2 separate regions of the Homo sapiens genome follow, and region 1 is linked to region 2. The links come from fine-mapping of genetic effects on gene expression. A gene starts in region 2. The other region holds a variant in brackets. All regions are shown on one strand. Distances are between the middles of the regions.

Region 1 (17,126 bases), 40 kb before region 2:
TTATTTTCTTTTTTTGAGATGAAGTCTCACTCTGTTGCCCAAGTTGGAGTGCAGTGGCACGATCTTGGCTCGCTGAAACCTCCACCTCCCAGGTTCAAGCGATTCTCCTGCCTCAGCCTCCTGAGCAGCTGAGACTGCAGGCGTGTACCACCATGCCCGGCTAATTTTTGTATTTTTAGTAGAGACGGGGTTTCACTATGTTGGCTAGGCTGGTCTTGAACTCCTGACCTTGTGATCCGCCTGCCTCAGCCTCCCAAAGTGTTGGGATTACAGGTGTGAGCCACCGCACTCAGCCATGACTTATTTTCCTTTGGGTGGAATGGTAGTTCTATTTTTAGTTCTTTGAGAAATATCCAAACTGCTCTCTACACTGGCTGAACTAATTTACATTCCCACCAGCAGTGTATAAGCATCCTCTTTTCTCTGCAGCCTTTCCAACAACTATTTTTTAACTTTTTAATAATACCCATTCTGACCGGCGTGAGGTGGCACTCATTGTGGTTTTGATTTGCATTTATCTGATGATTAGTGATGATGAGCATTTTTTCATGTTTGTTGACCACTTGTATGTCTTTTTATTTTTATTTTTTTGAGACGGAGTCTCACTCTGTCATCCAGGCTGGAGTGTGGTGGCACGATCTCGACTCACTGCAACCTCCACCGCCCCGGATTCAAGTGATTCTCCTGCCTCAGCTTCCTGAGTAGCTGGGATTACAAGCGCGTGCCACCACACCTGGGTAATTTTTGTATTTTTAGTAGACTCGGGGTTTCACCATGTTGGCCAGGTTGTCTCAAACTCCTGACCTCAGGTGATCCGCCCACCTTGGCCCCCCAAAGTGCTGGGATTACAGGCGTGAGCCACCATGCCTGGCTGTATGTCTTCTTTTGAGAAGTGCCTGTTCATGTCCTCTGCCCACTTTTTTTCGGGGGGTGGGATGGGAGACGGAGTCTCACTCTGTCACCCAGGCTGGAGTGCAGTGGCACGATCTCAGCTCACTGCAACCTCCGCCTCCCGGATTCAAGTGATTCTCCTGCCTCAGCCTCCCGAGTAGCTGGGATTACAGGTGCCCGCAACCATGCCTGGCTAATTTTTGTATTTTAGTAGAGATGGGGTTTCACCATGTTGGCCAGGATGGTCTTGAACTCCTGACCTCAGGTGATCTGCCTGCCTTGGCCTCCTAAAGTGCTGGGATTACAGGTGTGAGCCACCGTGCCCAGCCCTCTGCCCACTTTTTAATGGGGGTCTTTGTTTTTTGCTTGTTGAATTGTTTACATTCCTTATAGATTCTGGATATTAGAGCTTTGTTAGATGCGTAGTTTGTAAATATTTTCTCCCATTCTGCAGGCTGTCTGTTTACTCTGTTGATAGTTTCTTTTGCTGTGCAGAAGCTCTTAAGTTTAATTAGGTCCCACTTGTCAATTTTGTTTGTTTGTTTGTTTGTTTTTGAGACACAGTCTTACTCTGTCACCAAGGCTGGAGTGCAGAGGTGCGATCATAGCTCACTGCAGCCTCGACCTCCTGGACTCAAGTGATCCTCCCACCTCAGTTTCCTGAGTAGCTGAGACTACAGGTGTGCACCACCATGCCAGGCTAATTTTTGTATTCTTTGTACAGACGGGTTTTTGCCATGTTGTTCAGGCTGATTTTTGTTTTGCTGTAACTGCTTTGGAGGACTTAGTTATTTATAAATTCTTTGCCGCGGTTGATGCCCAGGAGGGTATTTCCTAGGTTTTCTTCTAGGATTTTAATTGTTTGAAGTCTTACATTTAAGTCTTTAATCCGTCTTGAGTTAATTTTTGTATATGGTGATAGGCAGGGGTCCAGTTTCATTCTTCTGCATATGGATAGCCAGTTATTCCAGCACCATTTATTAAATAGGGAGTCCTTTCCCCATTGCTTATTTTTGTCCAACTTGTTGAAGATTAGTTGGTTGTAGGAGGGTGGCTTTATTTCTGTGTTCTCTATTCTGTTCCATTGGTCTATGTGTCTGTTTTTGTACCAGTACTATGCTGTTTGGGTTATTGTAGCCTTTTAGTATAGTTGGAAGTCAGGTAATGTGATGCCTCCAATTCTGTTATTTTTGCTTAGGATCCTTTGGTTATTCTGGCTCTTTTTTTTGTTTAATATAAATTTTATAATAGTTTTTTTTCTAATTCTGTGAAAAATGATGTTGTTAGTTTGATAGGAACAGGATTAAATCTGCAGATTGCTTTTGGCAGTATGGACATTTTAATGATATTGATTCTTCCAATCCATGAGCATGGAGTGTTTTTCCATTTGCTTGTGTCACATAGATGATGCTTTCTAACTGTGTCTTTACATGGTGGAAAGGGTGAACAAGCTCTCAGGCCTCTGCCCTAATGATAATTACATTTCAAAACCTCTGCCTTCTAATACCGTCATCTTGGGACTCAGGATTTCAACATATCAATTTTGGGAGTAAACATTCATACTATAGCCCCATTCTAATAAATCATTTCTAGAATTGTCTTTTAGAGGTTGTATATTAGTTTCCTATTGCTGTTGTAACACTTCCTATTGTGTTGTAACTGTGAACCACAGACTCAGTGGTTTAAACAACTCAGATTTATCATTTTACAGTTCTAGAGGTCAGGAGTCTGAAATCAGTCTCTCTGGGCTAAAATTAAGTGGGCATCAGGGCTCCCTCCTTCTGGAGGCCTTGGGAGGAGAATCTGTTTCCTTGTCTTTTTCAGCTTCTATAGGTTGCCTGCATTCCTTGGCTCATGGCTCCTTCTTACATCTTCAGAGCTAGCGGTGTAGCATCTCCAATCTCTCTCTTTCTTTCTTCTTTTTTTCTTTCTTTCTCTTTTTCTTTCTTTCTCTCTCTGTCTCTCTCCCCACCCCTGCCCTGCTCTGCTTCTGTCATTAAATCACCTTCTCTCACTCTGACCCTCTTGTCTTCCTCTTATAAGAACTGTAGGCCGGGCATGGTGGCTCATGCCTGTAATCCCAGCACTTTGGGAGGCTGAAGTGGGTGGATCATCTGAGGTCAGGAGTTTGAGACCAGCCTGGCCAACATGGTGAAACCTCGTCTCTACTAAAAATACAGAAATTAGCCGGGCCTGGTGGTGGGCACCTGTAATCCCAGCTACTTGGGAGGCTGATGCATAAGAATTGCTGGAACCCAGGAGGCGGAGGTTGCAGTGAGCTGAGATCACGCCACTGCACTCCAGCCAGGGTGACAGAGTAAAACTCTGTCTAAAAAAAAAAAAAAAAAAAGAACTTGTGATGACATTCTTGGGATTACATTGGGCACACTTGGATGATCTAGGACAATCCCCCCATGTCAAGATCCGTAACATCTGTATGATCTCACTTAAATGTACAATCTAGAATAATCACACTCATAGAAGCAGAGAGTACAATGGTAATCTTCAGGGCTGGAGGGAAGGGAAAATGGAGAGGTGATGATCAAAGGGTATAAGGTTTAGTTACGCCAGATAAATAAATTCTGGAGATCTATGCATCTGACAAAAGGTATAATATCTAGAATCTATAAGGAACTTAAAGAGTTCAACAAGCAAAAAAACAAATAACCCCATTAAAAAGAGGGCAGAGGGGGCTGGGCGCAGTGGCTCACACCTGTAATCCTAGCACTTTGGGAGGCTGAGGCAGGCAGACTGCCTGAGCTCAGAAGTTTGAGACCAGCCTGGGCAACATGGCAAAATCCCATCTCTACTAAAAACAAAGAAAAAAATGTGGGCAGAGGACATGAACAGGTGCTTCTCAAAAGAAGACATACAAGTGGCCAAGAAACATATTAAAAAATGTTCATCATCACTAATCATCATCTACTATACATCACAGTGCCTACAGCTAACAATACTGCACTGTATACTTAGATTTGCCAAGAGGATAGATCTTAAGTGCCCCTACAAAAAAAAAAAAAGGGAATGGGGGTAGGGGAGGAAACTTTGGGAGGTGTTGGGTATGTTTATATGCTTTACGGTGGTGATGGTTTCATGGAAATATACTTATCTCCAAACTCATCAACATATATATATTAAATATGTACAGCTTTTTGTATGCAATCCTATCCCAATGAAGTAGTTTTTGTTTTGTTTTGTTTGTTTTTTACATTCACAGGTTCCAGTGAGTAGGATGTGGATATCCTTGGGGGGCCATTGTTGTACTTACCATAGTTTGCCTCCACAGTTTTTAATGTTGGGGTTGAAGTAATACTGAACATAGATTGCCTTCCATTAACATTGTAACAGAAATATTTCCCCACAGGAAATTTGTTGTTGTTGTTGTTGTTTTGAGACAAAGTCTCGCTCTTGTCCCCCAGGCTGGAGTGCAATGGTGTGATCTCGGCTCACTGCAACCTCTGCATCTCGGGTTCAAGCCATTCTCCTGCTTCAGCCTCCCGAGTAGCTGGGATTACAGGCGCCTACCACTATGCCTGGCTAATTTTTGTATTTTTAGTAGAGGCAGGGTTTCATCATGTTGACCAGGCTGGTCTCAAACTCCTGATCTCAGGTGATCTGCCCGCCTCAGCCTCCCAAAGTGCTGGGATTACAGGTGTGAGCCACCACGCCCGGACCCCCACAGGAAGTTTTTGTAACCATATTTCCTCAAGGTTGTGAGTGATTCAATATGCCCAAGCTGGAAACCAGGTTGTGTTCCGTCCTGGGCTGCTGTCCATTTTCCTGCAGCAGGCATTCCCCATACTTACAATGATGGTCTTAGCGTGGGTTCCCAGCATCAAGGGGGGTGGAATAGGATTATGATTCTGATCGCATATAGCCTAATTGCTTTTCAGAAGGATTGTATCACTTTACACATCTCCTGATGAACCTCATATGACTTTCTTAAAGCTGAAAAAAGTTCGCTCTTTTTATAATCAAGGTATTATGTCCTCATTAAAGCATATTTGGAGGCTGGGCCTGGTGGCTCATGCCTGTAATCCCAGCACTTTGGGAGGCCAAGACAGGTTGATTACTTCAGGTTAGGAGTTTGAGACCAGCCTGGCCAACGTGGCAAAACCACATCTCTACTAAAAATACAAAAATTAGCCAGACGTGGTGGCACGCACCTGTAGTCACAGCTACTTGGGAGGCTGAGGCATGAGAATAGCTTAACTCGGGAGGTGGAGGTTGCAGTGACCCGAGATGGTGCCACTGAACTCCAGCCTGGGTGACAGAGGGAGACTCTGTCTCAAAAAACAAAACAAAACAAAACAAACAAACAAAAGAATATTTGGGAAATGTAAAAAGAGCCAAAGGAAAAAATCACTCATAGTCTCATAAATAGAAACACAACTTAATAATTATGTTTCAATTTATAAGAATTGATCAATTCTGGCTGGGTGCAGTGGCTCACACCTGTAATCCCAGCACTTTGGGAGGCGGAGGCCGGCAGATCACAAGGTCAGGAGTTTGAGACCAGCCTGGCCAACATGGTGAAACCCCATCTCTACTAAAAATACAAAAATTAGCTGGGCATGGTGTCGTGTACCTGTAATCCCAGCTACTTGGGAGGCTGAGGCAGAATTGCTTGAACCAGGACCTGGGAGGCGGAGGTTGCAGTGAGCCAAGATCATGCCACCGTACTCCAGCCTGGGCTACAGAGAGAGACTCCATCTCAAAAAAAAAAAAAAAAAAAAAAAAAAGAATTGATAAATTCCCATAAATACTTCATTAATACTTAATACATTTCTTTCCAATATTTGTCTCTCTGTGTATATATATACAAAATTCTTAAAAATCATAGCTATGATGTTGGAGCTTCTTGGAATTGTTTTAGATTAGATCTAGGACACCTCATGTTTTGGGATATGCAGGAGAATATTATCAATTGTGTTTACCTTGGGATGCTTTCTGTCCTGTTTCCCCAAGAGATTACTGCTGTCACTCAGAACCTGGAGGCCCAGCTGGGTCCTTCCCTGGATGCTGAGTGTCAGGGCACAGTGTGGGGAGTGTGGCCTGAGATCCTTGACCACAAACACGCCATCTTGATTCTTCCTACCCAGACTCTAGTCTGAGGAGTTCACTGGAAAATGATTGGAAAGTTAGGTTTTATGACAATGCAACTTTATAATCCAATTAATTGATGCTGGTTACAAGCAGAATATCTTTCTCTTTAAAAATTAATTTACATAAATGACTACCATTTCTGCCTTCATGAACTTCATCTTCAAGCTCTGGTACTTAGCACAGACAATGCTAAGAAACCACATAGAAATCCAGGGACATCTGGCTCTGAAAAGAGAAGAGTTGGGAGTGTTTCATCCTATGTTCTTGAAAGGGGGGTGGAATAGGTTTATGATTCTGATCATAAATTGGCTGCTTTCCACTTTGATAAATATCTACAGTAGAAGCCCTAAGGCTGTAAGTTAGAGATAAGACAAAAACCAAAAACTCCCTAAAATGAAATAGTCTTACATTGGTAACCCATTCCAATATTAACAATGAAAGAAAAATCTCATTTTCCCTGGATGTTTTACATTGTTCTTCTTGAATGGAGGAGAGGAACTGAGTTAGCATCTGGAAGAAAACAATCCAAACTGGACTAGGCAAAACAGGAGGCCGTTGGCTCAGGCAGCTGGTAAGTACAGGGTGTAGTCTCCGGCATGGCTAGATTCAGGACCTCATCTCTGCCTTTCTCTTATGGGCTTACTTCATTTTCAGGGAGTCTTTATTCCTGTAGCCCCAGGAATTCTCATCTGGTCTCATTGGTCCATCCCTGCGGGGCGGGGATCGGGGGCGGTGGGAGGCCAGGATGTGGGGGCGGAGAGGCGGGGGCAGGAGAGGTATACAGGGCTCTAATTGGTCAGACTGGGCCATGTGGCCACTCCCAGGAAGGCTTTGGAGTCAGGGATGGAGTCAGCTCCATGAAAGCTTGCTGACCAAAAGGAGAGGGAAACAGGGTCATTCGCCCAGAGAAAAACTGAGGTTAGGATTGTCCTGTCCCCACAAACCTCCTTCTCCACCCACCAAGATTTGACTGTCTTCGCCAGGGACTTGCTCTAGCTGGGTCAAGCTCAAGTGGGGTTATTGAAGTGGAACAGGGAAACCCACGCATGGCAAGAACAGGGGGGCACTCAAGGAACAGGGGCCCAGAGCCACCCTCTGCAGCGGCTGCTCCATTCTCTGTTCTGTGAAAAGCCCTCGTTAACTTCGCAACACCGACAGGGATGCCAGACCCAGGTCTCCCCAAGGGCCTTGAAAGCTCCCGCATTTTCCCCTCTGCCATACTCATCCCTGGGTTTCTCAGTTCAGGTTTGCAAGAGAGGATCTGATTGACCTGGCTTGGGTCAGGGGCCCAACCCTGACCCAATCAGCTGTGGCAGATGGAATGGAGGTGGGGCTCAGGGGGTTTCCCCTCTCCCTCAGGGTTGTGGTGGGTCAATGGATTCTAGTGATTATGGCACCTGCAGATCTCAGCTGATTTTGTTTTTTAAAAAATTACTAATACTATTTCTTGAGACGGGAACTTGCTCTGTGGTCCAGGCTGGAGTGCAGTAGTGGGATGCTAGCTCACTGCACCCTCGAACTCCTGGCCTCAAGCCATCCTACCTCCTTGGCCTCCCAAACAGTTGGGATTACCCACATGTGCCTCTGAGCCTGGCCCAGTTACTGATGAGTGCCTACTCTTTTTTCTTTTTTTTTTTTTTT[G/TG]GCAGAGTTTCGCTCTTGTTGCCCAGACTGGAGTGTGATGGTGAGATCTTAGCTCACCGCAACCTCCGCCTCCTGGGTTCAAGCAATTCTCCTGCCTTAGCTTCACGAGTAGCTGGGATTATAGGCATGTGCCACCATGCCCGGCTAATTTTTGTATTTTTAGTAGAGACGGGGTTTCTCCATGTTGGTAAGGCTGGTCTCGAACTCCCGACCTCAGGTGATCCAGCCGCCTCAGCCTCCCAAAGTGCTGGGATTACAGGAGTGAGCCACTGCACGGGGCCGAGTGCCTACTCTTTATGTGTCCCATTTTAAACTTACACCAACACTCTGAAGCTGAGGCTCTTAGAGGCCAGCCTTCTTGCCTGGGTCACGCAGCCACTAAGTGAGTGGTTAATCTGAAACTAGCACCTAGGGGAGCTGGCGAAGGGGCCCAGGGTAGCAGAGGCCATGAAGAACTCTTTCCAAGTTGTTGTTTTTTTTTGTTTTTTTTTTTTGGGGGGGGGGGACAATGTCACTCTGTCAGTCAGGCTGGAGTACAGCGGCTCAATCTCAGCTGACTCCAGCCTCCTCCTTCCAAGTTCAAGCGATTCTCGTGCCTCAGCCTCCTGAGTAGCTGGGACTACAGGCGCGCGCCACCACGCCCGTCTAGTTTTTGTATTTTTAGTAGAGACAGGGTTTTGCCATGTTGCCCAGGCTGGTCTCGAAGTCCTGGCCTCAAGTGATCTGCCTGTCTCGGCCTCCCAAAGTACTAGGATTACAGGCTTGAGCCACTGCACCCGGCCCAGATTGGTTCTTTAAAGCGGAGTTGAGAGGTGGCGCTGGAGGGGAGGAAGCCCTTCGACATTTGCTCCCAGCCTCAAAACTGGGTTGCACCGGCATCTGTTCCTAGCCCTGTGGGGTTCCTGGAGCCCCGCCTTGTCCCGCCCGGCCTCCCTGAGTTCTTGTCCTCCCCCTGCCCACCAGTCTCAGTGTGCGGGGTGGGGACCACCAGGCTGGGAAGCCCAGAGTTCCCAGGCAACTCGTGCGCCTGGGAGGGTCATAGAATCCGTCCTACACTCCTCAGGATCTTGAAGGGGGCTCTTCCTTACATTCCCAGTCACCCCTCCCCCAGCCCCTACACAGGGCCTAGGTAACCTGTCTGCACCCCACTCCCACTCTGTATCAGCTGCCCTCTTCCTCAGCACCCTATCCCACTGGAGCACCTTTTCCAACTCCAGTCGCCACTTTTAATCTGCCGCCTTTTCCCAGCAGCCAGTCCTGATTGCCTCCTCCGTAGCCCCAGTTGCCCACTGCTTTAGATAGTGTCGCAGCTGGCTGTGAGGAGTGTCCTGATTCTGTAACCCGGCACCTCCTCCACAGGGCCCTAGACGCCTCAAGCCTTCCAGGACGTTTGTTGATCAAAGGCGAAGGATGTGTAGAATCTTCGTCCATCTACGAATTAATTCTCGAAACCTGCTTCGAGTGGGCCTCGCGCGTAACACAGGGGACACTCAGTGGTGAACGAGACCACTCGCTTAGGCCTAGCAGCGAGGTGACCGTTCACTCAACACACACTAACTGGGTCCCGCAGGACACGCCCCGGCTGGTCGCGGGGGTTACCCGGGGTGCCCTCAGTCGGCCGGCCGGCCATAACCGGCGTGATCTCCTCGCGCCGAGAGACCCAGCAGGGACCTCGCAAAACCCAATCCACGTTTTGTTTTATTTTGTCTTTTTGCCTCTCAAATGCATGGAAATTGGCTGCTAGTAGCTTTGCTACAGGAGAAAATCGCTAATCTGTAGTGCAAAATCGGCGCACAGGGGTTTTCTCTGAGATTGTCTAGACGCCGCGCGGGCGGGTCGGAGGCGCCAGACACATTGTATCCGGAGCGCGGAGCTCGGGAGCAACAGTCGCCGCCTCTACTCTGTATCTGCGCCGCCCCAGGCGCCCAGTGTCCGCGCTGGGCCTGGGACTGCCCTCGGGGGATGGGGCCCACGCGGGCTTTGATGGGGGGCCGGGGGCCACTTTGTCCACCCAGGCGAGGCTTGGGTCCAGCGCCGGCCACATCAACTCCCGGGGGATCTAGCAGCGCGGAGGCCAAGCAGGAGGCCCAGGAGCCCCGCGCGTCTTCCATTAGCGCAGGGACCTCCGGGCCACAGCTCAGAGAATCGGAAGGCCTCCTCCCCCTTCCCGAGCGCTGCCACTGGGGCCGAGGTTTCCAGCAAGAACCCGCGTGTCCCTGCGCACGCACACACGGTGCACACGTCAGTCCGGCGCCTCCCCGTGCCCCGACTCACGCAGGTCCTCCCGCGCGCCCGCAACACGCCCGCAGGCTCCTGTGTCTGCTGCCGGGGCAGCGGGGCCCGGAAGGGTAAGAACGCGGCTCGCTAGCGGGATGGGGACCCTGGCCCGGCCTGGACGCTGTCCCGGGCGGGGCCTGGGGGCGGAGCGCGCCGGGCCGGGCGCGCAGGAGGGGAGGCGGGTCCGCGCCGCCGCCGTCCGCGCCGCCCCGCCCTTGGCCCAGCCGCTCGCTCGGCTCCGCTCCCTGGCTCGGCTCCCTGCCTCCGCGTCGCAGCCCCCGCCGTAGCCGCCTCCGAGCCCGCCGCCACATCCTCTGAGGTAGGCGCAGCGGAAAAGGACCCCGGCTTCCTTGCGCCCTGGACGGCGGGGGCCAGGCCCCTGGGGAGCTGAGAGGGAGGCGCTGAGGGAGGAGCGGGCGAGGGGCCCCGGCAGCCCGGCCGCGGGGAGGGATCGCGAGCGGCCGGCGCGGGCCTGGCTGGTGAGCGGGCGGGCAGAGAAGGCCGCACAGGCGGGTGCCGAACAGGTCTGGGCTGGGGAGCGCGAGGCCGAGGGTCCAGAGACGCCTGCGGCTGGCGGCGAGAGGCGGCCCGGGCTTGCGGGCGGAAGTGCAAGGGCGGCCGCGTGGAGGCCCGGCGGGCCGCGCGTCTAGGTGACCTTCCCCGGCGGCGCCCTCTGGCCCTGGATCCCACCAGCGTGCATCCGGCGGGGACCCGTTCGCCGCCCACGCTCGCCGGACCAGGCCAGCGGGCGGGTGCCGGCCACGCTGCCGCCTCGGGGATGAGCTCACGTGACGACCGTGGCCCCGAGTCCCCAGGCCCACGCGCCCTGGCCGGCCCACGCCCGCAGAAGCTGGCGCCCGGCACCGCCCGCCTGTGCCAGAGCCTTCTAGAGCGGAACGCGCCGGCCGAGAGTCGACTTAGGCGGTAGAGGCCGGAGCTCGGGCCTGGGCTGAAGGTTTGGCCTCGGAAAAGGAGGCCCCACGGGGAAGGATGTGGCCTTCTTGGTCTTAGGAGTGATTACTGGTTCGGTCGTTCATTCATTCGCCAAATGCGGCGGTGCATTCTGGAAACTGTTTCGGAGCCTGACTTTGGATTAGAGGCCCGCAGTCTTAGTGGTTTGTACAAGGTCACACAGCTGGGAAGTCCCCATACCTTCGTTTTCTCATCTATAGGACGGGAGCAATTGTACCTCTCCTTCGATGAGTTTTGGGGAATAATAAAATGAATTAATTAGCATGAAACCTTTAGAACAGTGCCGGTGTGGAGAAGGGCTAAGTAGAAACCCTGACACCCTTGGGGCTTTTTGGGTGAATCCAGCCCATCCCCCGCAGACCATTTTGCTACACGTGGCGTTGTGGAAGGGGTTCAATAAATGTAGCTCCTGTTTTTAAACATTCTTTCACTATTATTGACAAGCATTTGTATACCAGGTATTGAGTAACTTTCAGCTTAATTTATGAAAAATCTTGTAAGTTTACAAATGGACATTGTCAAGCTGGAGCAGTAAGTTTGCATGTGGAGATCTTGAATGCAGGAGCAGACCCTGGTTTAGAGCCCGTTCCGCCCGGGGTCCCTGTCCCCTTGACTAGCCTCCCCTCTCCTGGGGAGATAGGGGAAAGGGCTCCTCTGTTGCCTAAACTTCTCCACTGAGGCAGGAGAAGGCCAGAGCAGACTACCGAGGGCCAGCCTTCATTCTGCCCACCCCAGCTCTGGACCAACTCAGCTCCTAAGGGTCAGACTGAGGCACTGAGGCCCTGTGCTACTTTGTCTTCAGTGCCTGGGGTGGTGCTGCCTGGCACACAGTAGGTGCTTGAGAAGGGTCTGTGGGGGTAAATGCACTCTTGTGTCAGAATCCACCCATCTTTACTGACAGAGTTTTACTATTCCAGTACATGGCCCATAGTAGGTGCTTATTGAGTATTTGTGGAATTATTGAATGGGCATATGAAGGGCTGCAGGCCCAGACCATAGTCCTTTGATCCTGGACTTTTTTTTTTTTTGAGACAGGGTCTTGCTCTGTTGCCAGGTCTGGAGCGCGGTGGCACCATAACGGCTCATGGCAGCTTCTGTTTCCTGGGTTCAGGCAATCCTCCCACCTCAGCCTCACAGAGTATCTGGGATCCCAGGCACACACCACCACGCCTGGCTAATTTTTGTATTTTTAGTAGAGTCGGGGTTTCACCATGTTTGCCAGGCTGATCTCAAACTCCTGGCCTCAAGCAATCCACCCGCCTCCGCCTCCCAAAGTGCTGGGATTACACGCGTGAGCCACCATGCCCGGTCCTGGACATCCTTTTGAGGGACACAGACATCTCACTTGTGGAAAACAGCCTCACCTAGCAGAGAGTCACAAATATTTAAAGAACTGTAACAGTATGTATAGTCTCTTGAAATAAGTGCTTTAAACACATCGTCTTCATTCTCTGGTTTTCCAAGTCCCGAGGGAAACTTGTTGAACTGGTGTTTCTGGGCTTGCAGGGAGGGTGACATGGGTGACTGGGATTCTACAGAAGGTGTTGGGCCTGTTACCCCTTCCCTCATGGTGGGTGGATGGACAGCTTGTGCTGGGGTTGTCCTGAGTAGGGTGCCTGCCTGTGGGTAGTGGGGACTACTCCTTGTTGATTATTTAGTTTTATTTTTGCTATTCTAGAGTGGGGCTATAGGCAGGGGTTATTCGTAGCTCAGAAAGTGGGGGACCATACAGGGATGAGGTGCCTGTGGGCCCCTGGCCTTGCTGAACACTAGGCAGGTGTGGACAGTGAACTCCATGCTGGGGAGGTGAAGGGCATCCAACCTCTACCCTTACCAGGAAGATGCTCCTGAAGCACTGAAGTCCACTTCGCCTTTGATGGAATTTCCCGTGGTGTAGTGTCTTCGGTGGTAGTGACTGGAAGAGGCGCATGTGTGGTTGAGGACCAGCCGAAGCTTGGAGGCAGCCCCTCCTGGTGCTCAGAGATTCTGTAGTCTGCGGCTTTGGGTTTTCCATGGAGTCCTGTGGTAGCCACTGAGAAAAGTTGACCAGTGGGCTCCTCAGCTGGGTCTGGGCGCATTTCTCCATTTTACCACGTACTCAGGGGGTTTGGGATGAGTGGGACTTTAAGTTCTTTACTCAGAACTGTGCTGGAAAGAGCACTGGAGAGTAGCTTAGGCCCATAACACAGGTCTGGTGAGCCATAGGGTCGGTCTCATACAGGTCAAGTCACTGTCTTGTGCCTCAGTTTCTCTCTCTCTTTTTTTTTTTTTTTTTTTTAGATGGAGTCTCACTCTGTTGCCCAGGCTGGAGTGCAGTGGTGCAATCTCGGCTCCCTGCAATCTCTACCTCTCGGGTTCAAGCAAGTCTCTGCCTCACCCTCTCGAGTAGCCGGGATTACAGGCGCCTGCCACCATGCCTGGCTAATTTTTTTGTATTTTTTAGTAGAGATGGGGTTTCACCATCTTGGCCAGGTTGGTCTTGAACTCCTGACCTCCTGATCCACCCGCCTCGGCCTCCTAAAGTGCGGGGATTGCAGGTGTGAGCCACTGAGCCCGGCCGAGTTTGTCTGCTATAAAAGTATGATTGTCGTCATTACAGTGATTGCTGATTGAGGGCTTGCTCAGCACCTTTCTGGGGGCTCAACGAATGTTCTGTGATGTTGAGTTCACCACCCTATACCCTGGGAGAGAGATAGTGTGTTTCCATTTCACAGGTCAGCAGACTCGAGCACAGAGAGGTGAGGTAACACAGCCTGGCAGGAGTGGAGTTGGGATTCAAGGCCTGGTCTGAATGGTGGTGCTCTCACATTGCAGTTGCACTCCAAGGGACCCTTGCAAGGTGCTAACAGATGTGAATGCCTTTTGGAAAGTCAAAATTGGTGTTCAGATGGGAGACATTATTTTTCCACACCAGTCAGAGTGAACTTGTGCATGGCTGTGTGCGGGCCAACTGGCAGTGGACAATGGAGTCACCTCTATTTCTTGCAAGGACAGTGGTGCTGAGTGTCTATTATAAGGGTCCGTTTTCCCTGGGATCTGGTGGGAGGCATTCTTTCAGGACCTGTTCAGCTAAACAATGCCTCATTGTGGACATGAAGGACTCTGGACCCTGTGGTTCAGGGTGACCTTTTGAACATGCTTAGCAGCCATTATTATAATAAATATACAAAATGAAAACTTGTGATAAAATACTGTGTGTATTCCCTGCTTACCAAGCGCCAGCCACTGTACCAAGTGTTGTATATTAACGAGCTAATTCAGTCCTCACAGTGACGCCATCCAGGCTCTCTTTCTCCATATTAGAGCTGAAGAAAAAGGAGTAGAGAGGTTGCGACTTGCCCAAAGTCACATACCTAGAAAGTGGTGGGGTGGGTTAGAACTCAGGTCTATTTGATTCCCGAGGCTTCCTGCCCAAGCACTGTCTGTCTCAACCCTACCTGGTCAAGCCAAGCAGTGAGGCTCCAGGGAACTTGAGGTGCCTTAGGTCAGGTAGGAGCCCCAGGTATGCCTGGGATCCAGACCATAGTGTACTGGCTGCCAGCGCAGGCCATCTCCCCTTGATAGGTGGGTGGGCAGGCTGCCCTGAGTCAGCAACCTCTTGAGCCCAGGAGCTCAGCATGGAACTCAGCTGTGCTGGTGGTGGCCCAGCTGCCAGGGTGTTTCAAAATAGAAGCTACCCCTGGAAAGCTCTACTGCCCACTGCGAGACTGTTGTGGAAGAATGGAGGGAGAGAACAGCTGCATTGGGTACGCAGACCTGCTACCAGAACACAGGGCCATCAGCCTTTGCCAGCATCCTGGAGCTTGAACCAGGAACTGTTCCCCTGGGTTGTTTCTTCCTGGCAAGAAAGAGAAAGTGCTGGAGTGTGTGTGTGTGCATGCGTGCATGTGTGTGAGCGAGCTGCTGATTGTGTTCGCCCCCATGTTGGCTTTTAGAGCTAGGGTTGCCTTCTGCTGGGGAAGTTGCTTTTCCTGGTCCTCAGGGCTAGGAAGAGGTGCTGTTTCTGTGATCACTGGCTGGTCTGATACCCCTCCTATAGGCTGGCCTAGTTCTGCCCTGACAAACCACCTAGAATGGTGTTGGTGAAACAGCGGGGCCAGAGACTTTTCCATAGTACTCTCTTCCTTGGCAGAATCATAAGATGATGGCAATGATGATGATGATGGTTGTGATTGCTCTGTTGGTTAGCGTCTTTGCAGGGATCTGGTGCACACTTACACTTGGTAATCCAGGAGAGTTTAATGAAGACATCATTTGCAAAGCTGTGGATGGGGTGTCAGGTCTGGTCTGTTAACACCCTGAGGCCTACAAGAGAGGGAGCTTCTTGGCAGGAGCTGTGGCCTTGGGTAGAGGAAGGTAGTCATTGCCCATCTGAAGCCTAGCAGGGAGGGAGACTCGGGGTGAGTACCCCGACTTCATTCTTCCCTAAACTCCCGTCTTCTGCAAGTACCTCACGTTGAAAGGCTAAGCCCAATCATAAGCCCATGGACAGCAGTCCATAATGATCAGTTCTGGGGGCACAGAGCAGGGTGGAAGGGAGGAGAATGGATCTGGAGGGGCAGACAGAGTATCCAGTGTAGTGGATTATGGTTATTACTGCCATTTGTTGAACACTTACTCCATGCCAGATACTTCTGCTGTTCTGCCTGTTTCACTCATTCCTTGTAACAACTTCCTTAGGCCTAAGGCCTTTCCTCCCAGCTGTTTTTAGCTGAGTCTTGGAGACCCATGGCCACCCTGCTCCCTGTATCAACCATTGCAGTAGTTGTTGGCTCTCTAGGGGTGCAAAGCTCATCTGCCTGAATCCTTCTATTATTACTATTTATTTCTTTTTATTTTTTATTTAAAAGAGACAGGGTCTCACTGTATTGCCCAGGCTGGTCTCGAACTCCTGCATTCAGGCGATCCTCCTGCCTCAGCCTCCCAAAGTGCTGGGATTAGAGGCGTGAGCCACCATGCCTGGCACATGCCTGAATCCTTTTGAGGGAGCCTCTGCAGAGAAGAGAGCATATTTCTACCAGGCGGGGGCCTGGTAGGTGCTTAGTGCAGGAACCGCCCTGAGCTGCTGCTTCTCAGTGGCACCTGGGGGCAGCCCTGCCTGTTAGGCACAGGCTGAGAGGTAGGGCAGGAGGAGTTCCATCTCTTCTGGCAGGCTCTTCTTGAACAAGCGCCTCCGGTGATTCTTGTGCACCCTGAAGTTAGGGAGCTCTTTCCTGCTCATGATTTCTGGCAGGGTGGCCAAGCCACTAGTGGTCACCTGGGAGTGAAATGTGCCCCGACGGACCTTGCCTGATAACTCTTCCATCTCAGTGTAGTTTAAATCTGTTCTTGCAATCTGTATGGACACTCTAGGTAGCCTTCTGGCATTGCTACTGCAGCAGCCTTGGAACGTGATTTGGGACACAACACAGCTCAATTTCAGGCACAGTGGTTGGCTTTTAAAGTGCTGTTTTTTTGGAGAGGGAGTCTCTCGCTCTGTCACCCAGGCTGGAGTGCAGTGGCACGATCTTGGCTCACTGCAGCCTTTGCCTTTGGGTTCAAGTGATTCTCATGCCTCAGCCTCCCAAGTAGCTGGGATTACAGGCACTTACCACCACGCCCGGCTAATTTTTGTATTGAAATTCTTTATCCTTAAACAAATTATTAGTATACACAAACAGCTTAAATAATGAAGCAGAACAAAAAATGAAAATTCGATTTGAAGTGCATTCCTTCCCTAAACCTCCTTCTCCAGAAGCGTATCTAAGCCAGCCCCAATTTGCAGATTGGCTTGTATCCTTCCACATGCTTTCCCATCCATTCATGAACATAGAAAGATGTGTAAAAAGGTTTTCCTCCAATTACATGGAATTACAAATTTTCTGACTTTTTTCATTTAACTGTATCATAGCTAGCTAGCTTTCTTTCTTTTTTTTTTTTTTGTTTCGAGACGGAGTTTTACTCTTGTTGCCCAGGCTGGATTACAATGGCGCGATCTCAGCTCACCACAACCTCCACCTCCCAGGTTGAGGCAATTCTTCTGCCCCAGCCTCCCGAGTAGCTGGGATTACAGGCATGCGCCACCACGCCTGGCTAATTTATTTTGTATTTTTAATAGAGACAGGGTTTCTCCATGTTGGTCAGGGTGGTCTCGAACTCCTGACCTCAGGTGACCCGCCCACCTCGGCCTCCCAAAGTGCTGGGATTACAGGCATGAGCCACTGCGCACGGCTATCGTAGCTTCATAGCTAGCTTTCTAT
Region 2 (12,547 bases):
TGAAGCCAATAATTCAGGACTTATTCCTTCTTGTGTTGTGTTTTTTTTTGGCCCTTGCACCAGAGTATGAAATAGCTTCCAGGAGCTCCAGCTATAAGCTTGGAAGTGTCTGTGTGATTGTAATCACATGGTGACAACACTCAGAATCTAAATTGGACTTCTGTTGTATTCTCACCACTCAATTTGTTTTTTAGCAGTTTAATGGGTACATTTTAGAGTCTTCCATTTTGTTGGAATTAGATCCTCCCCTTCAAATGCTGTAATTAACAACACTTAAAAAACTTGAATAAAATATTGAAACCTCATCCTTCTTCTGTTGTCTTTATTAATAAAATATAAATAAACAGGGCATTTGTTTAGATTTATTTTGTCTTCATGCTCTGTGTATTATATATTATTCGTTTTCACTCACTGTACAACAGATTACCATATGTTTAGCAGCTTAAAACAACACTCATTTATTTCACAGTTCTGCAGGTCAAAGCGAGGCAGGTGTGCATGCCTACCTGGACTGTGCTTAGCTTCTCACAATGCTGGAATTAGGGTGTCGACCAGGCTGTCTTCTCATTTTATCTGGGGGCTTGGCGTCCTCTTCCAGGCTTTCAGGGTTGTGGTGGAATTCAGTTATTTTCAGTTGTAGGACAGAGGTCCCTATTTCTTTGTTGGCTGAGCCACTCTCAGTGCTCAGAGGATGCCAGCATTCCTTGCCATGGGGTCCCCTCCATCGCCAAAGCCAGAAACAGAAAAACTCCCTCATGTGAAATCCCTCTCACACTTCCAGTCTCCTCCAGGTAGAGCCCCAACTCTTTTAAGGACTCACCTGATTAGGTTAGGCCCAATGAGGGTAATCTCCCTTCAAGTTAACTGCCAGGTAAAGTAACCTAATCACTGGTAATATCCTTTCATGTTTGTAGGTCCCTCCATATGGGTCATGGGAAGGGGTGATTTTGGAATTCTCCCATATATTTATATGTTTTTAATAACTTGATGGTGGATTTTTTTTTTTTTGAGGCGGAGTTTCATTCTTGTTGCCCAGGCTGGAATGCAATGGCGCACAATGTCTGCTCACTGCAAGCTCCGCCTCCTGGGTTCAAGCAATTCTCCTGCCTCAGCCTCCCCGCCTCCTGGGTTCAAGCAATTCTCCTGCCTCAGCCTCCCGAGTAGCTAGGATTACAAACATTTGCCACCACACCCGGCTAATTTTGTATTTTTAGTAGAGATGGGGTTTCTCCATGTTGGTCAGGCTGGTCTCAAACTCCTGACCTCAGGTGATCTGCTCACCTTGGCCTCCAAAAGTGCTGGGATTACAGGCGTGAGCCACCACATCCAGCCTATTGTGGAAACACAAATAGTAATAAACTCTATGCATGATCCAGCTTCAACAAATATGAACATTTTTTTCCATTCATGATTTTTCAGCAGAATTCCTTTTTTTTCTATGTTTGAAAGTGACATTCAAAACAGGAACCATCTATTTTAGCATTTTATGCAACTGATCACCCAAAAACTGTGGGCCTCAGTATTTGTCATACTGTCTTCAGGGACTTGCAGCTATTTCTAAGTGAATGTTCATAGAATTTATCCAGAGATTATGGCACATAGTGGTTGCTGGGTACATCTAGTCAGATGTCAGGTACAGTATTAAGATATTTTACTTTTAGAGACAGTCTTACTCTGTCACCCAGACTGAAGTGCACTGTCATCATCATAGCTCACTGCAGCCTTGAACTCCTGGGCTCCTGTGATCCTCCCATCTCAGCCTCCCGAGTACTTGGGATTACAGGCATAAGCCTGGCCCTAAAATATTTAAAAATGTATAAAGGGTTCTCTTGAGTATGAGGGAATATTTCCCTCACTAGTTACTTATTGTCTGCTTGTTGCATGCAGCATGTTGGAATATCATTGTGCAAAATGCTTTGAGTTCATAATATCTCACCAGTTAAGAGAATTGAGACAATCTGGTATGAGGACACAAATGGACAAAGTGGACAATGAGTCAGGGAAGAGGACTGCAGTGTGTTTATTATAGATTAACTTTAAAGTCAACAAGCAGAAACTAAGATTGAGAAGCTCATTTGTTGAACTGAGTGGTTTTACAGAAAACTTAAGTACCGCTCAGAGAAGGGAAGCTCCTGGGGGACTGGGAGGACTTTGCACCTTGGCTAAAGTGGAGAGTTTGCAATAAGGACACCATTCAGTCTAATACGGGCTTCTGGGGGATTTCGGGAAATGTGCAGATGAATGACTTCTTAGTTTTCTTAACACAGAGTTTGTGTGTTTCTGAGCTGTCACCAGGGTGAGATAAAAGCTTAGGGGAAACCAGATTCAGGAGTAGAACACAGGCCCTTTAGAGAGACAGCTCAGCTGTGTCTCTGGGGGATAACAGCAATCTTCGCAGGGAATCATAGAGACCAGAATGGTGAAGCTGTGGGCACAATAAATGTCTTGCTTAACGTCACATTGATTTTCCTGAAATTGATCAAATGGAACTTTTATGAATTGAAGCCTGTATCTGTTTATTAAGGAGACATTTACAGAACGTACACACAGAGCAAAGTATGGCGCCAGGGCCCTAGGTGAACTTCTTGGAAGTTTGTAAGTTTGCATTTTTATACACTGGGGATTTCAAGTAACAAAATTTAAAAAGAGAAGCTTATTTTAGGAAATCTGAAAGTTATTTTCAATGGCAGCCCCTCACCTCTACTTCCTAGCTACCTTCCTTTCTTTTCCTCCATAATTTTTTTTTTTTTTTTGAGACGGAGTCTGTGGCCCAGGCTAGAGTGCAGTGGCATCTCGGCTCCCTGCAGCCTCCACCTCCCGGGTTACAGCGATTCTCCTACCTCAGCCTCCCGAGTAGCTGCGATTACAGGCACGCGCCACCACGCCTGGCTAATTTTTGTATTTTTAGTAGAGTCGGGGTTTCTCCATGTTGGCCAGGCTGGTCTCCAACTCCGGACCTCAGGTGATCTGCCCTCCTCGGCCTCCCAAAGTGCTGGGAGCCACTGCACTAGGGCCGGTCCATAATATCTTTATCATCTTGTATAGTGTGTATTTTACACCATATTCGCCCTCACAAGAAAATAAACTGCCAAGGCGGGCGGGGGGGTGGGGGGTTCTTTTTGTTCACTGCTGTATCTTAAATAGGGAGAGGTGCTAAATCTTTGTTGAAAAAAAATAAATGACTGTCGGGAAAGATTTTTAAAAATTACTTATAATCCCATCACCGAAATAGGACTACTTAACATTTGTGTTTCTTTCGCCTTTGAGAGAGGAAGAGCAGTTACTTCGCTTTCGTGATCAGTCTGTTCTACAGCTGGATCTTCCTTTTTAAAATGGCTAAAAACGCTATTTTTGGCTGTATAGTACCCAATCATGCAGGCGGCAGGGAGGGGCTCGCTTTGGCCCTCTTCAGCACGTCACACCCTACCTTTAATCCGCAGCCAACTGTGTGGCGGTCCCCACTTTCGCCTAGCGGCAACTCCCTCCTCCCTGCAATCCTTCCTTCTTATTCCGGTTTCCAGAGCACGTCTCCAGGCTTCGACGTCACCACGCTGGGACGTATGTGCCGAGGGCCGCGGCGTCTGACCTCATGGCGTAGAGCCTAGCAACAGCGCAGGCTCCCAGCCGAGTCCGTTATGGCCGCTGCCGTCCCGAAGAGGATGAGGGGGCCAGCACAAGCGAAACTGCTGCCCGGGTCGGCCATCCAAGCCCTTGTGGGGTTGGCGCGGCCGCTGGTCTTGGCGCTCCTGCTTGTGTCCGCCGCTCTATCCAGTGGTAAAGGGGGGCGGCAGTGTGGGCTTAGGAAGGCTAGGAGGGCTCGGGCGCAGGGCAGGAGACAGGCCGGGCCAGGGAAAGGGCGCTTCCAAGTGTCAGGAGCAGACGGCGGTGTCTGGTTGGGTCAGGGTCTCCGCGGGCCTGAGGACGGAGGGTATGGTGTCTGAAGGGGTCCAAGGTGGTAGGGTCTCCAAGGGGCCTGAGAAGCGGGGTCCCTGAGAGATGCAGGAACCCAGGGAGCAGGCAGCAGGGTGTGTAGATGGGCGGGGAGGGAGGAGTGGTGTTAGCGCCTAGAGATCGTTGAAGAATGGGCTGCCGCAAGGAATGGCGGTGGTGGGGTCTCCAAAATTTCTTGGATCGGAAAGTTAGGAGACTCTGGAAGAGAGGGTGGCGACAGGGGCTGAGGAGGTGGCCGGGGCTGGGGGTGTGGTGTCTGGAAAGGGTCCTGAGTTTGGGGGACTCAGGAATCTTGCAGGACCAAGGAAAGGTGGGGGTTTTCCAGAATGGGAGAGGTCAGTGGTAAAGACCGAGGCGGGCAGGGGCAGTAATCCAGTGACTGGACTGAACCAATGGAATATTTCCGAGAGGGAAAGTGAAAGGGAAAGAGCTGTCTTAGGGTACTGGTGCATATTTGAAGACTGGGAGGTTCTGGTGTTTGATAAAGATTCAGAGTACTGGGGCGTTGGGCCCCTGAAGGCTTGGGAGGCAGAGAGGAGTTTGGAGACAAGGGAGATCATGATTCCTCTTCCCTGTGTTCCGAGTTAACCAGGATAACCCTGCCTCGTTTTAATGCATCTGTAGGATTTGATTGATAAAATATTTCATTTCTTGCAAATGTTGCATGGTGAAATCAAGAGATTGAAGGCTTTTATTGAGAAATTAGGAAATCTGTAAACCAGTGCCTGATACTTGGTGGGAAAAATCCACTATTAAGAACTTGTAAGGATTAAACGGTATTTTGTTTAGTAGTCCCATTTTTCTTTCAGGCCAAGACACAGTCCTGCGTTTCTCCCTAAATTTGAATTTTCAGCTGCAAAACAGTGTGACCTGGTATAGTGTTTTCTTTCTTGCCAGCAGGGCCTGTCCAGCCCTACATTCCTCTGCGACAGTACTGTGGGTACATACTTATGTTTCCTCAGCAACATTTCAGTGTTGCTAACTGGACGCCCTCCCAGAAGTCTTTGCAGTCCCTGAGGAAGGACTGCTGTCCATTTCCTAAGGCCCTTTTATCATTAGTGAAATGTAATGAGGATTTCCCTGGTTGATGCAGATATTCCCGTTCCTAAAGTACTTAAGTAGCTTAATTGTTTTGGCCATTTAATCATCTAAGAAAAATAAAACACAAACATTTATATTTCCTGCTGGAATGCTTAAGGGATATATATCTGGCAACTGTAGTTTCAGAAACAGCTTTTTTCCCCTAAGAGATGGTTGAAAATTGGGCAAGAAGTGAGGCAGAATGTGGACTGTTAAGTGTCCTTTAGTCTCTGCTTTTATTTGTTAGAGCCCTATAAATATTTTTCTAACTATACTGAGACATTTTAGAGAATCTTTATCTTTTAAATTAAGTCTTTACATACACCAGTTTAAAATGTCATAAATTCAGATTATTCTGTCCTGAAAAGAAGCTAAATGAAAACGAACATACATGTCTTTAATAGGCGAGCAGCTCCACTGCACTACAGTGTAGCTTGGGATATAAGTATTTTTTGTAAGCATACCTTATAATTTCAAAGTAGTCACTCCTGTAATAAGAAAATTAGTCTAGAATGTGTTGAGTTCCAAATTTCAAGTGAGTTTACAAAGGTAGAAGGTTACCACATTAGATTTATTTAAATTTGTTCCATATTAGGTTTTAAAAACTGTCAATGCTTGGTTATATGCTCGTCAGTCTGTAAGAATTTTTGTTTTATGTTTTTGTTTTGATCAAGTCTAAAAAATTAACATAAGCAGTTTGGATCACTGGGTGACTAATTCTTGGTCATGCCATTTCAAAAATGCCTGGTTCTCTACATTTGCCATTATATTGTCCCCAAATGATCACCTAAACTTAATGTATAATGCATTTCATTTTTAAGGCATTGTTTCTCAAACCAGTGTGTGAATGAGTTCTCGGGGTCCTCTGCATTCTTAAGTTTAAGAAATGCTGATATAGTTTTATTTTAGGGCAGTTTTTAAAAAGGGACCAGTAGAAGGGGAGAATTAAATTTATAAAGTTTTGTTTTTTGTTTTTTTTTTGAGTCTGTCGCGAGGCTGGAGTGCAGTGGCGTGATCTCGGCTCATTGCAACCTCCGCCTCCCGGTTTCAAGTGATTCTTCTGCCTCAGCCTCCCGAGTATGCTGGGACTACAGGCGCGCACCACACCTGGCTAGTTTTTGTATTTTTAGTAGAGACGGGGTTTCACCGTGTTATCCAGGATGGTCTCAATCTCCTGACCTCGTGATCCGCCCGCCTTGGCCTCCCAAAGTGCTGGGATTACAGGCCTGAGCCACTGTGCCCAGCCTTTTTTGTTTGTTTGTTTGAGACAGGGTTTTGCTCTGTCGCCCAGGCTGGAGTGCAGTAGCACAAACTTGGCCCATTGCAACTTCCGCCTCCTGGGCTCAAGCAGTCCTCCCACTTCAGCCCCCTGAATAGCTGGGACCACAGGTGCCTGCCACCGTGCTCAGCTGATTTTTGTATTTTTGTAGAGATGGGGTTTTGCCATGTTGGCCAGGCTGGTCTTGAATTCCTGTGCTTAAGCGATCCACTTGCCCTGGCCTCCCAAAGTGCTAGGGTTACAGGCGTGAGCCACCGTGTCCGGCCTAAGCTTTATTTTTAAAATGTTAAGCTTCAAGTAGAGAGGTAATATCAATTAGGAAAGGGAAGATTTAGAAGTCTTATTTATATGCTCATAGAAGGTCAACAGTTAAATCCGTAAAGTCAGAGTTGTACCTTTGTTCTGAATACTCTTCATATCTGACTTAATCAACTTCTCTGATTTGAAGGAGTTTGAGTAAGTTGATAGCCTTTGTATTACATGTTTCAGGTCAATTATTTGTTTTTTCTTGTGCTGTATTTGTGTATTACTTCCAAGATTTTACTGCTTGACTAAGACATTCTGCTCCTACTTGGTGCTAGGTATTGGAGTTAAACAATGAATAGGGTGATACTGGGGGTATCCTTAGAAGAATGAGTGGCGTTTTGCTGAGAACCATGGCATGGGCTCTTGAGGGAGTGCAGTAGGTGCATAGATGCTATGTGGGATGTGGTGTGGGATTTGTGGTGAGAGTTGAATCGAGAGCATATTCAATAAATATTTATTGAGTGCCTGCTATCTATTAAGTAGGTAATGGGGATAGAGCTGTTAGGGAGATTAGTAAGATAATGAGAGTGAGGTAATGGGGGCCAGATCATGTAGGATCTTGAAGGCTATTATAAAAATTTTCACTTTTGTGAGAAATGGATGGCCCTAGAGGGTCTTAAGTAGAGGAGTAACATTTGATTTAAGTTTTGACAGAATGACTCTGGCTGCTGTGTTGAGTATAGACAGTAGAAGTTAGGGTGGAAGCAGGCAGATTAATTAGGAGGCTATTGTAATAATCCATGTGAGATAATGGTTACTTGGATGAGGCAGGAGCAGTGGAGGGTGAAAAGCCCTCAAATGCTGCATATGTCAGAATAACAGATTGGATGTGGGATGTTAAAAAAAATGACAACTCCAAGGTTTTTAGTTTTAGTAACTACAAAGATGTAGTTGCCATTAATTGAGATGGAGACTAAGTAGAACAAGTTTTTTTGTTTTTTGAGTGGGGCATAGGAATTTATTTAAACTTATTTTGAGATAATTATAGATTCACTTGGCAGTTGTAAGAAATAATATAGAGATCCTGCATATCCCCTACCCAGTTTTCCTAATAGTAACGTCTTTCAAAACAATAGTGCAATATCACGACCAGGATATTAACATTGGTACAGTCAAAATACGGGGCATTACCATCACCACAAGGATATCTCATATTGCCCTTATAAAGCCACCCCACTTCCCTCCTACCTCACCCCTCCTGAACTCCTGGTAACCACAAATTATCCATTTGTATAAGTTGGTAATTTTGAGAATCTTACATAAATGGAATAATACAGTATGTAACTTTTGGGATTGACTTTTTTTCACTTAGCATAATTCTCTGAAGATTCACCTAGGTTGTTACATGTGTCAATAGTTTGTTCCTTTTTAAATTTTAACTTTTATTTTTTCGAGAGTAAGTCTTGCACTCCAGGCTGGAGTGCAATGGCACGATCTCGGCTCACTGCAACCTCCGCCTCCCAGGTTCAAGCAGTTCTCCTGTCTCAGCCTCCAGAGTAGCTGGGATTGTAGGTGCACACCACCACACCCAGCTAATTTTTGTATTTTTGGTAGAGATGGGGTTTCACCATTTTGGCCAGGCTGGTCTCGAACTCCTGACCTTGTGATCCACCTGCCTTGGCCTCCCAAAGTGCCCAGATTACAGGTGTGAGCCACCAGTCCTGGTTGTTTGTTCCTTTAAATTGCTGAGTAATATTCTATGGTATAGGTAGACTACACTTTATTTATCTGTTGAAGGATGCCTGATTGTTTCCAGTTTTTGGCTATTATGAATAAAGCTGCTATGAATGTGTTTGTGCAGCACTCCAGCCTAAGTGACAAAGCGAGACCCTGTCTCAAAAAGAAAAAAATAAAATGAGCTTTCTATGGACATCATGTAGTTGAGTCTGCCAGTCTCTGTTTTTTAATTGATGTATTTAGGTCATTTACATTTACTGCACTATGGATATGTTAGAGCTGAAGTCTGCCATTTTTATTTTTTGTCTTTAGCCTGGGATATATGAGGTAAAAAGAAAAACCTAAGGAAGTCACCACCATGTTGTTTCACATATCCTGAGGTCTCTAACTGTTCTACCCAGTTCTTTCCACCTTTCAGAGTGTTCTTGTGTTATTTTATACATAATGTTCAGAGCTTTTAGTTGTTTTTAGTGGGAGAAACAGGGAAGAGTGTGTTTGTCTTCCTGAAAGCCAGCCAGAATTCATTTTGAACATATTAATGTGAATGTCAGACATCTAAGAGGAGATGTCAAGTAGGTGGTTGGATTTATGAGTCTAGAATTCTGGTCGTTCTTGGAAGTTCTTTTAATTTTTCTCAGAAAAGTTAGGAAGTGATGTCATCAGTTGAAAATGAGGATAACAGAGAAGACATTTGAAGTTTGTGGTTAGAGGAAAATGTGATTGGTGTCCTAAGAGAGTAGAAGGGTAAATGGACTAGGAAAATATGATTGCCAACAATTTTAATTGCCAACAGCTTTAAACATACACCTGAATCTTTGGCATTGAATTTAAAATGAAATGAAAACAGTGGCATGGTTGTATATTTTTTCTAGCCATGTTCAGCTGCTGGGTGCAGATGTGAGTAGTCAGAGAGCTTGATTTATTAATAACTAGGGATGAGTGTAGTCTCACCAAGTGAATGGGTCAAAGTGGACAAGGGGGAAGGGAATTGAAGATGGATGTAAGAGAGTGATTATAAGCAATTATAATAGCTGACACAGAATTGAATCTGAATAAAGAGAGAAGAGAGTGTATTGGGCAAGTTTTGATGGTGACCGTAAGGGAATGAAAAGGATTAGAGGGTTGTAGGTGTTTATGGATTGAGAATACCAGGGAATGAACTGGAAGGATAGGAGGTCTTGCCAGCAAGTAGAATGCATGAAATTGAGATTATGGAAGAATTGTGATAATAAATAATGACTCTGGGAGTGAGTGGCTGAGGTAAAGAGGAGGGCTAGCTCATGAGAAGAGAGGAGGTCAAAGATTTTGAAATCAAGGCAGGAGTACTTGTCTTAGATGGAGTGAACTCTAGAGCCAGGAGCTAAAGATCATTAAGAATTAGGGGGCATGACTTTGGAGTTGGATGAAAGTAAGTTAGTGCATTATAGCTTAAGATAAGAGAATCAAAGCTAGAGGCATTTAGGGAGAAGAACGGGAGAATGGTCTGAAAAGGGCAATGAGGAGGAGAACTGTGCCTCCTTGAGATTCAGTGGTTCAAGGATGTGGGAGAAAAAACAGCTATTACTTAAACAGGCTGAAAGGAAAATGTGTCCTTAAGGGAGAGTCAGGTTTCAGTAATAACAAGAAAGCAAAGGGTGAAAGAAGGGATTTGCTGATGACTGTGAATTCTATACTGCGTGGTGGAAATTTCTTTATAATTATTCCCACCCTATCAGCTTGTGTCCTTTAAAGGTACTTACCCATGGAAAAATTGTTCTTTTAAAAGTTAAGTTTAGTTAGTTGGCTCCCACTTATTTCAATTTTAAATTTTATTTTAAAACATGTTTTTTGTACTTTGGCAGGAAAATTAAATGTATCAGAAAATAATAATTTTTAAATTCTTGAATTATAACTAAGTTGAAGTGATAAATGCAAAAATTATTTTCAGAAATTCCTGTTAGTAGTTTTCTGAGTAATGTACTGAGTTGTAGGTCCTGTTTATTTCTCTTTTCTTCCAGTAAAAAATTTCAAGGAACTCAATTATTGAAAATGTTTTAAGAGTTTTACTGTAATCCCAGTACTTTGGGAGGCCAAGGTGGGAGGATTTCTTGAACCCTGGAATATGAGAGCAGCCTGGGCAACATGGCAAGATGCTGTCTCAAAAAAAAAAAAAAATTGCATATGGCATTGGACAAATATATGAAAAATAAAAAAAGCCAGGCAGGGTAGCATGTGCCTGTGGTCCCAGCTACATGGGGGGCTTGAAACCAGGAGGTCGAGGCTACAGTGAGCTATGTTTGTGCTACTGCATTTCAGCCTGGGCAACAGAGTGAGACCCTGTCAAAAAAAAAAAAGGGAAAAAGAGAGTTTTACTAATTTATTGGTTTTTTTTTTTTTTTTTTGAGATGTGGTCTTGCTCTGTCGGCCAGGCTAGAGTGCAGTGGCGCCATCTCGGCTCACTGCAACCTCCACCTCCCAGGTTCACGCCATTGTCCTGCCTCAGCCTCCCGAGTAGCTGGGACTACAGGTGCCTGCCACCATGCCTGGCTAATTTTTTGTATTTTTTAGTAGAGACCGGGTTTCATCATGTTAGCCAGGATGGTCTCGAGCTCCTGACCTCATGTTCAGCCTGCCTCGGCCTCCCAAAGTGCTGGGATTACAGGCGTGAGCCACAGGGCCTGGCCTTTTTTTTTTTTTTTTTTTTTTTTTTTTTTTACTAACTGACTACATTATTTTTCTGAGATCCTCTGTTCATTCTAATTGACACCAGCTATTTCTTTTTTTTTCTACACAAAATGGATGTCAACTGTGGTACACAAACCAGAGTGTATTCACATGAAGAAAGGGTTGTCTGTTGGATTGTTAACTTGTGTGAATGCACATGTTTGTGAAAGCACTAGAATGACTTGGTTTAATCTTACCCCTATAAAATATTTTACTTTAATGTGATAGACTTTAAAATATTGTCTGAATATGTTTAGATCTACATGACAGAGGTTTTTTTTTTTTATTTTTTTAGTGTAGTAGAGGTCCTTGAAGTTCTTCAACAGATACTACATTAGATTATAAATTAGAGATGGTTAAATTTCGGCAGGGATTCCTCTGGAATCTTCCTCTATTCATTCTTCTTGGTAAAAGAATAGTAAGAATTCTTATGTAAAGAATTTTACCTTTAGTAAACTATGCTGAGTAGGTAGCAGCACAGGGAAATAAGAATGTGTGTGTATTTGGTGTCATTTGCTATACCTAGATGCCTTCCCTCATCTTCAAAATAGTCTAGTTGTCACTTAGCTCTCAGGTTCCCGTTTCGGATGCTTCTCCTTTAGAAGTTTTTTCTTCTTTGTAAGGATCCTTCTTTTTTTTTGAATTTAGGAGAGGGAGTCCTCTAGTTCAAGTATCACTTAGAATTACTATCTACAGCATGCCTATAGCTTCCCCTGAATTTGTTATGTTGTGTTGAAAGTATTTAGGTCCAAACTCCATATCTTTTTTGGGACCTACTTGAGTGAGAATCAGCCACTTTTTGGTCTGTTCTAGGGATCAGGTAAAGTCTGGACAAGGTAACTGAAATCCACACCCTTTATGAAATGAAAACAGAGGGGATGGGTGAGGGCTGTATGTGAACTTTGCCATCGTGACTTAAAGTCAGCCCTTTTTCTTTTCTTTTGGTGGCAGGCTGTATGATGCAGTAGGTCTTTTATGCTGCTTAAATTGTTAGTATCTAGCAAAGCAATTATTATCTGAAGAATAACTGACTAAGAAGAAATGTAACTGAATGCTGGCTATTGAGACTTAATAACTAGTTTTCGAGAAAGTTATAGGAATGTAGCAGAGAGAAATGCTTAGTGTAAAATTTGGGTAAATATGCTTTTAGCTTGGTGGAGATAAAGTTGGAGATTTCAGTTTGATATTCTTTGTTTGTTTCAGTTGTATCACGGACTGATTCACCGAGCCCAACCGTACTCAACTCACATATTTCTACCCCAAATGTGAATGCTTTAACACATGAAAACCAAACCAAACCTTCTATTTCCCAAATCAGCACCACCCTCCCTCCCACGACGAGTACCAAGAAAAGTGGAGGAGCATCTGTGGTCCCTCATCCCTCGCCTACTCCTCTGTCTCAAGAGGAAGCTGATAACAATGAAGATCCTAGTATAGAGGAGGAGGATCTTCTCATGCTGAACAGTTCTCCATCCACAGCCAAAGACACTCTAGACAATGGCGATTATGGAGAACCAGACTATGACTGGACCACGGGCCCCAGGGACGACG

Evidence for each region. PIP is the estimated chance that this variant, and not a neighbour inherited with it, causes the effect.
Region 1: its variant is fine-mapped to the expression of C5orf15 in whole blood (INTERVAL, PIP 0.98).

Annotation. Positions count from the first base shown.
Region 1 is chr5:133,997,755-134,014,880 of GRCh38, reverse strand. VDAC1 (voltage dependent anion channel 1) reads left to right here and starts at 9,906. Exons shown (of 9, transcript NM_003374.3): 1 at 9,906-9,986. RefSeq lists enhancers at 9,063-9,132, 9,173-9,232, 9,303-9,422, 11,073-11,122, 11,133-11,182 and silencers at 9,593-9,642, 9,683-9,742, 9,803-10,842. The variant G/TG (reference allele first, on the strand shown) is at 7,639.
Region 2 is chr5:133,959,673-133,972,219 of GRCh38, reverse strand. C5orf15 (chromosome 5 open reading frame 15) reads left to right here and starts at 3,595. Exons shown (of 3, transcript NM_020199.3): 1 at 3,595-3,774; 2 at 12,200-12,547. The coding sequence starts at 3,636. VDAC1 (voltage dependent anion channel 1) reads left to right here. Exons shown (of 9, transcript NM_003374.3): 9 at 1-349. It overlaps LOC105379183 (a long non-coding RNA gene), which reads right to left and starts at 3,531. Exons shown (of 2, transcript NR_134247.1): 1 at 3,428-3,531; 2 at 1,997-2,469. RefSeq lists enhancers at 3,452-3,671, 4,302-4,401.